Linked DNA regions of Homo sapiens: region 1 is linked to region 2. The links come from fine-mapping of genetic effects on plasma protein levels. Region 2 holds a variant in brackets. A gene starts in the other region. All regions are shown on their forward strands. Region 1 holds the start of CTSL (cathepsin L). Region 2 overlaps LRRK2-DT (LRRK2 divergent transcript).

The links. PIP is the chance, under the fine-mapping model, that this variant and not a neighbour inherited with it causes the effect. Protein levels are from antibody-based Olink assays in UK Biobank. Linkage for the fine-mapping came from a reference panel and not from the study's own genotypes, which makes the PIPs less certain.
Region 1: CTSL starts here. The variant in region 2 is fine-mapped to the plasma level of the CTSL protein (UK Biobank, PIP above 0.99).

What each region holds. Positions count from the first base shown.
Region 1 is chr9:87,724,559-87,727,474 of GRCh38, forward strand. CTSL (cathepsin L) reads left to right here and starts at 1,561. Exons shown (of 8, transcript NM_001912.5): 1 at 1,561-1,840. RefSeq lists promoters at 1-1,634, 1-1,606, 89-1,634, 101-1,533, 303-1,634 and 7 more, cis regulatory regions at 550-552, 618-620, 777-964, 962-969, 1,041-1,191 and 12 more and an enhancer at 1,352-1,873.
Region 2 is chr12:40,219,273-40,222,188 of GRCh38, forward strand. All of the region lies in intron 1 of LRRK2-DT (LRRK2 divergent transcript), which reads right to left. Among named protein-coding and RNA genes, the nearest start is that of LRRK2-DT, 3.1 kb to the right of the region's middle. The variant C/T (reference allele first, on the strand shown) is at 1,360.

The sequences.
Region 1 (2,916 bases), not on the chromosome of region 2:
GTCCCAGCTCCTCTGGAGGCTGAGGCAGAGGAATCACTTGAACCCAGGAGGCAGACATTGCAGTGAGCTGCGATTGCGCCACTGCACTCCAGCCTGAACAACAGAGCCAGACTCCGTCTCAAAAAAAAAAAAAGAGGAATAATCTCCAAAATAGTAAACAAATTCCTGCAGACAGGAAATATAATGGTAGATACCTGAGCTAGGAGAGGGGGAATGGGGAACTATTATTCAATGGATACAGTTTCAGTTTAGGAAGATAAACAAGCTCTGGGAATAAACAGTAGTAATGGTTACACAATGTGAAGGTACTTAATGCTACTGAACTCAAAGTTGGTTAAAATGGTACTTGCTATGTGAGGTATATTTTACCACTTAAAAAACTATAGGTGATTGTGCTTCTAAAAGAGTTATCAGTTTAATCTTCAATAGAAATCAATGGACTTTGTTCATTTTTAACAAAGTCAAAATATGCATACGAAAAGGTTATGGGGTAAAGGCAGAGGTAATTATTTTTTTCCCCGAAAGGTATTTTCTACAATGAATGTTTTTATGTAATAAAAAATGAAATGACAAAAGTTTAGAATGTTTGTGGGTTTTGTTCCTTAAATCCTTAATTACATAAATTAATATCTACATTATACAGATTAAGATACATATTTTTCCTCTATCTACAACATTTCTCCATTCTCTGTATCTTAAATCCTGACATTAAATGTCATTAAATTTCTTAAATCTCAAGAGAACGACTTGGTTACCAAGGAAGATATAATCCATAGCCTAGAGAGTGGGCGAATAAAAGCAGCTTCTAATGTTCTCAACTGCTTTTCTCCTGTCAACCAAATGTTTCTGTAAATAACTCATTTCTGTTGGTTTTGGGTAAGACGTGGGAGAAGGAAGAATCCCTGAATGGAGGAGTCTGGAAAGGATGCTTGACAAAACGCCCGCGCTCTCTGGAGACGCAGCCAGTCTCCTCCCTCCTAGGGTCTGGTCTTGACGATAGCATCTCGTGTTTTGGGGATGCCTTTCCTTACCAGATTCTTCTAAAGCCCAGCTGCACCCACCCTTAAGTGGGAGATAAGGCTTCTGCCCGCGGGCTCTGCGTTCGTCCACCCGGCCCCACGTTTGCTGTGGACTAAACAGGAGCCACTGGACTAGAGTACACTTGACTCTCGGCTCTGCGGACCAAAAATTCCAGGACTAAGGAATAGCAAGGTTAGGCTGAAACAGTCCACACAGGGCTTGCGGTAAACGTCTTTTCAGGAGCCACTCGCCCAGTGCAGTAAGTCGTGTACTTAGTTGACTCGAGCGCTCCAGGGAGACGCCCGACCCTACTCTGCGCCGCCCCGGGGCACCAGCTCTGCTTCCTCCAGGTCCACTGAGGCAGGCACGCCCAGCTCTGGGACAGTCAGTAAACAAGCCACGAACCGCGCCAGGGATCAGAGCACCCAGAGTCCCCGCCCAGCTGCCGGCACAGCCAATCGCAGCGCAGCCAGGCGGCGGGGCGGTGCCGGCCGAACCCAGACCCGAGGTTTTAGAAGCAGAGTCAGGCGAAGCTGGGCCAGAACCGCGACCTCCGCAACCTTGAGCGGCATCCGTGGAGTGCGCCTGCGCAGCTACGACCGCAGCAGGAAAGCGCCGCCGGCCAGGCCCAGCTGTGGCCGGACAGGGACTGGAAGAGAGGACGCGGTCGAGTAGGTGTGCACCAGCCCTGGCAACGAGAGCGTCTACCCCGAACTCTGCTGGCCTTGAGGTGGGGAAGCCGGGGAGGGCAGTTGAGGACCCCGCGGAGGCGCGTGACTGGTTGAGCGGGCAGGCCAGCCTCCGAGCCGGGTGGACACAGGTACCGCAGCCAGGCCGCGCCGCGCCGACTCAGGGCCTGGCCCGGCCAGACAGGGAAGCTCAGTCCCCGCACGCCAGACAGCGGTACTCCTGCTGGCGTCACCGCAAACATCCTCTGACCGCTACAGCCAGTGTGTGGCGCAGGCGTCATGTCCCCGGCCCTGCCACGCCTGGAGCCCTGGAAGCTGGCTGCAGGGCGCTGGCTTCCCGCGTGCGGCCATATGACCCCGTCCCTGATTTAGGGGAGCAGTTTGGGGTGTCGGCAGCACAGGCCCAAGTGAATGAAGGAGGGAGCAGTGCGTGCTCTCCTTCCCAGTTTTTCCTGGGAAAGCATTTCAGAAAGGTTTCATTTAAGGAGAGGTTGGGGCGGCGCGGTGGCTCACTCCTGTAATCCCAGCACTTTGGGAGGCTGAGGTGGGCGGATCACCTGAGGTCAGTAGTTCGAGACCAGCCTGGCCAACATGGTGAAACCCCGTCTCTACTGAAAATACAAAATTAGACGGGCGAGGCGGCGCACGCCTGTAGTTCCAGCTATTCAAGAGGCTGAGGAAGAATGGCTTGAACCCGGGAGGCAGAGGTTGCTGTGAGCCGATATCGCGCCGTTGAACTCCAGCCTGGGCCACAGAGCAAGACTCCATCTCAAAAAATAAATAAATAAATAAATAAATAAATAAATAAATAAATAGGAGAGATTGGAAAACTTATCTCAGCTTTTGGTGTTTGTTAGTCAGGAAGATGTGTGAAGGCCTCCTAACTCTTGGGGATCTCTTTGTCCCTACTTGGGAATCCCACCTTATCATTAGTGAGGTTTTGCCTGGGCACGAAACCTGGATTTTTTGCGATTGGTACAAAACCTGGATCAACCGTTTCCCGGTTTCCTAGTTGTTGCCTTAAGCTTCTCACACACAAGGTAGTTTCATACCGTTCTCATAACCTAAATTGTCATCGCATAAACTGTTTCAGCTCCTACAGCTCTGGACAGGCTGCTTTTCATTTTGGTGAGTCCATCCAGTACCTCCACGTGCCCTGTTTTTCTCCAGGCACATCCTTGGCCTCTTCCACAGTCCTTGGGTAAAT
Region 2 (2,916 bases):
TGATTTATTACTTTGAGCATCAGTGAAGTTGAAAATATGTTTAATTATTTTTATTATGAAATAAGTTAGAAACAGAATACGGGTAATAATGTAATGAATACCCATGTACCCAATGACAAGCTTAAAGAAGAAGAAAGTTACAGATACACTTGTAGCCTGTAAAATATCCTTCCTGGATGCATTTCTACTTTCTTCTCCCCAGAGATAACCACTAGCTAGAATTTGGTAAATATTATTCCCAAGTATAATTTTTATACTTTTATACATACATATATATCCCTAAAGTATATGAAACCTTGCATATTTTATAGCATTGGAGCACTGATATCATGCTATAAGTATCCTCTGCAACTTGTAAAAAGTCCAGTATTACAATTTTTTGCTCTTTAGCCACTAATATATGGAGCTCTAGTTTAATAGTTTTCACAGATTTATAAAAGTTCATTATATGAATATATTCACTTTAAGTGTTGATAGATATTCATATGGTCTACAGTTTCATTATAAGCAAAAAATGATACACTGAAGATTCTTACATAAATGTCCTTATGTACATTTGAGAATTTCTTTAAGAAACAGCCTTAGAGTGAAAATGTCAGGTCATAGGATAGACACATCAGCTTTCCTAGATTTTGCCATGTGCTCTCCAAGGTGCTTGCTCTGATTTACACTCTTACCAGTACTACAAAAAGTATTCTAGTTGTTCCACATCCCAGCCAGTAGTTACTGGTATTATCCAACTTTAAGTTTGTGGTTAATGAGATGGTTGTGAAATGGTATCTCATTATGGCTTTAATTTTTATTTCCTTGATTACTTGTGTAATTGAGCATCTTTGGATAGGTTCATGAAGTTTACTGGCCTTTCCTCTTCTACATATTGCCATATATATAATGTACATATATATAATGTACATATATATAATGTACATATATATGTACATATATGTACACATATATATATAATATATATATTTTTAGACATATTCTCGCCCTGTGGCCCAGGTTGGAGTGCAGTGGTGCCATCTTGGCTCACTGCAACCTGTACCTCCTGGGTTCAAGCAATTCTCCTGCCTCAACCTCCCAAGTAGCTGTGATTACAGGCATGCACCACCACAACTGGCTAATTTTTATATTTTTAGTAAGACAGGGTTTCACCATGTTGGTCAGGCTGGTCTCAAACTCCTGGCCTCAAGTGATCCACCCACCTTGGCCTCCTAAAGTGCTGGTATTAAGGCATGAGCCACCGTGCCTGGCCATATTTTTTAAACTTATATATATAAAAACTAGGATACTTATCTTTTCATTTATAATTTGTGATAGTACCTTTTATATATTCTTCTTATTAATTTTTAATTGTTA[C/T]ACGCTTTCCCAAAATCTTCCAGCCTATGGTCATCTTTTAACTTTGTTGATGGAGTCTTTTGTATAGTGTTAGATTTTAATGTCTGTAAATTTAATAATTTTTTCCTATATGAACTGTGATTTTATTTTATTTTTTTTTAGTTTAGAGACAGGGCCTTGCTCTGTCCCTCAAGCTGGAGTGCAGTGTCACAATTGTAGCTCAGTGTAACCTATAACTCCTGGAATCAAGTGATCCCCTTGCCTCAAGCTTCCTGAGAAGTTAGGACTACTGGCATGCACTACCATACCTGGCTAATTTTTAAATATTTTGTAGAGACAAGGTCTCTCTATGTTTCCCAGGATCGTCTTAACTCTTGGCCTCAAGTAAGCCTCCCACCTCGGCTTCCCAAAGTGCTTGGATTACAGGTGTGAGCCACCATACCTGGCCTTAACTGTAATTTTTGTTTTGTTTCTTTCCCTCTTAATGTCAGATAGTTTTCTATATTTTTTTCAAATTTTTTTTTTTTTTTGAGACAGTCTCACTTCTTCACTCAGGCTGGAGTGCAATGGTGCGATCTTGGCTCACTGCAATCTCTGCCTCCTGGGTTCAAGCAATTCTCCTGGCTCGGTCTCCCCAGTAGCTCGGATTACATGCACGTGCCACCACACCTGGCTAATTTTTGTATTTTTAGTGGAGACGGGGTTTCACCATGTTGGCCAGGCTGGTCTCGAACTCCTGAGCTCAAGTGATCATCCCACCTGGGCCTCCCAAAGTGCTGGGATTACAGTCATGAGCCACTGCACCTGGCCTGTTTTCATTTTTTATACAAAAATGTTCAATCCATGTGGAATTTATTTTTGAATATGGTGTGAGGTAGGCATAATCATTTGATGCTTTTTCCACAAACAGTGGTCTCAGATTCATTTATCAAATTGCCCTTTTTTTTTCCACTGATACATAATGCAACATCTCTCATATATCATTTCCATATATGTGAAGATGTGTTTCTGGGTTTTCTATACTCTCATTGGTCACTTTGTATAGCTGTGTCAATAACATGCCAATTAATTTCTATAGCTTCAAAAAAGTATAATGCTTCCTATACTGTATAAGTTGTGTCCTCCATAAGAACACCAGGGTAGAGACTGAAATCCAAATCCTGCTTGATACACCCAGATATAAGGCTGTGCCTACCTAAAAGGCACTTTTTTCTAATTCATAGAAAGACTGCCTGCTGGGTAAACTATGTGCTTTCAGGGCTCCCCGCTTTCATCCTAGGGGTACTTTTTCCTTCTTCAGAAATTGATAGAGAAAGGCTACTACATACTCTGAATGGATGTCAATTGGACATCCAAAAGGACAAGATGGCAATTCTCCCATCTTGTCCTTCTTCAAAAGTGTCTAGTCTATACTAGGCCTTTTGATCTTGCTGAAATCTATGTAAATCTTGTTGAGAATTTCACTAATCTTGCATTGTTTTTTATTACTTTGTAGAGAATTGACATATTTTTGAATTTAGTTTTCCCATTAATTAATGTGATATTAATATTTATTCATGCCTTTTTAATGCCTTTTAA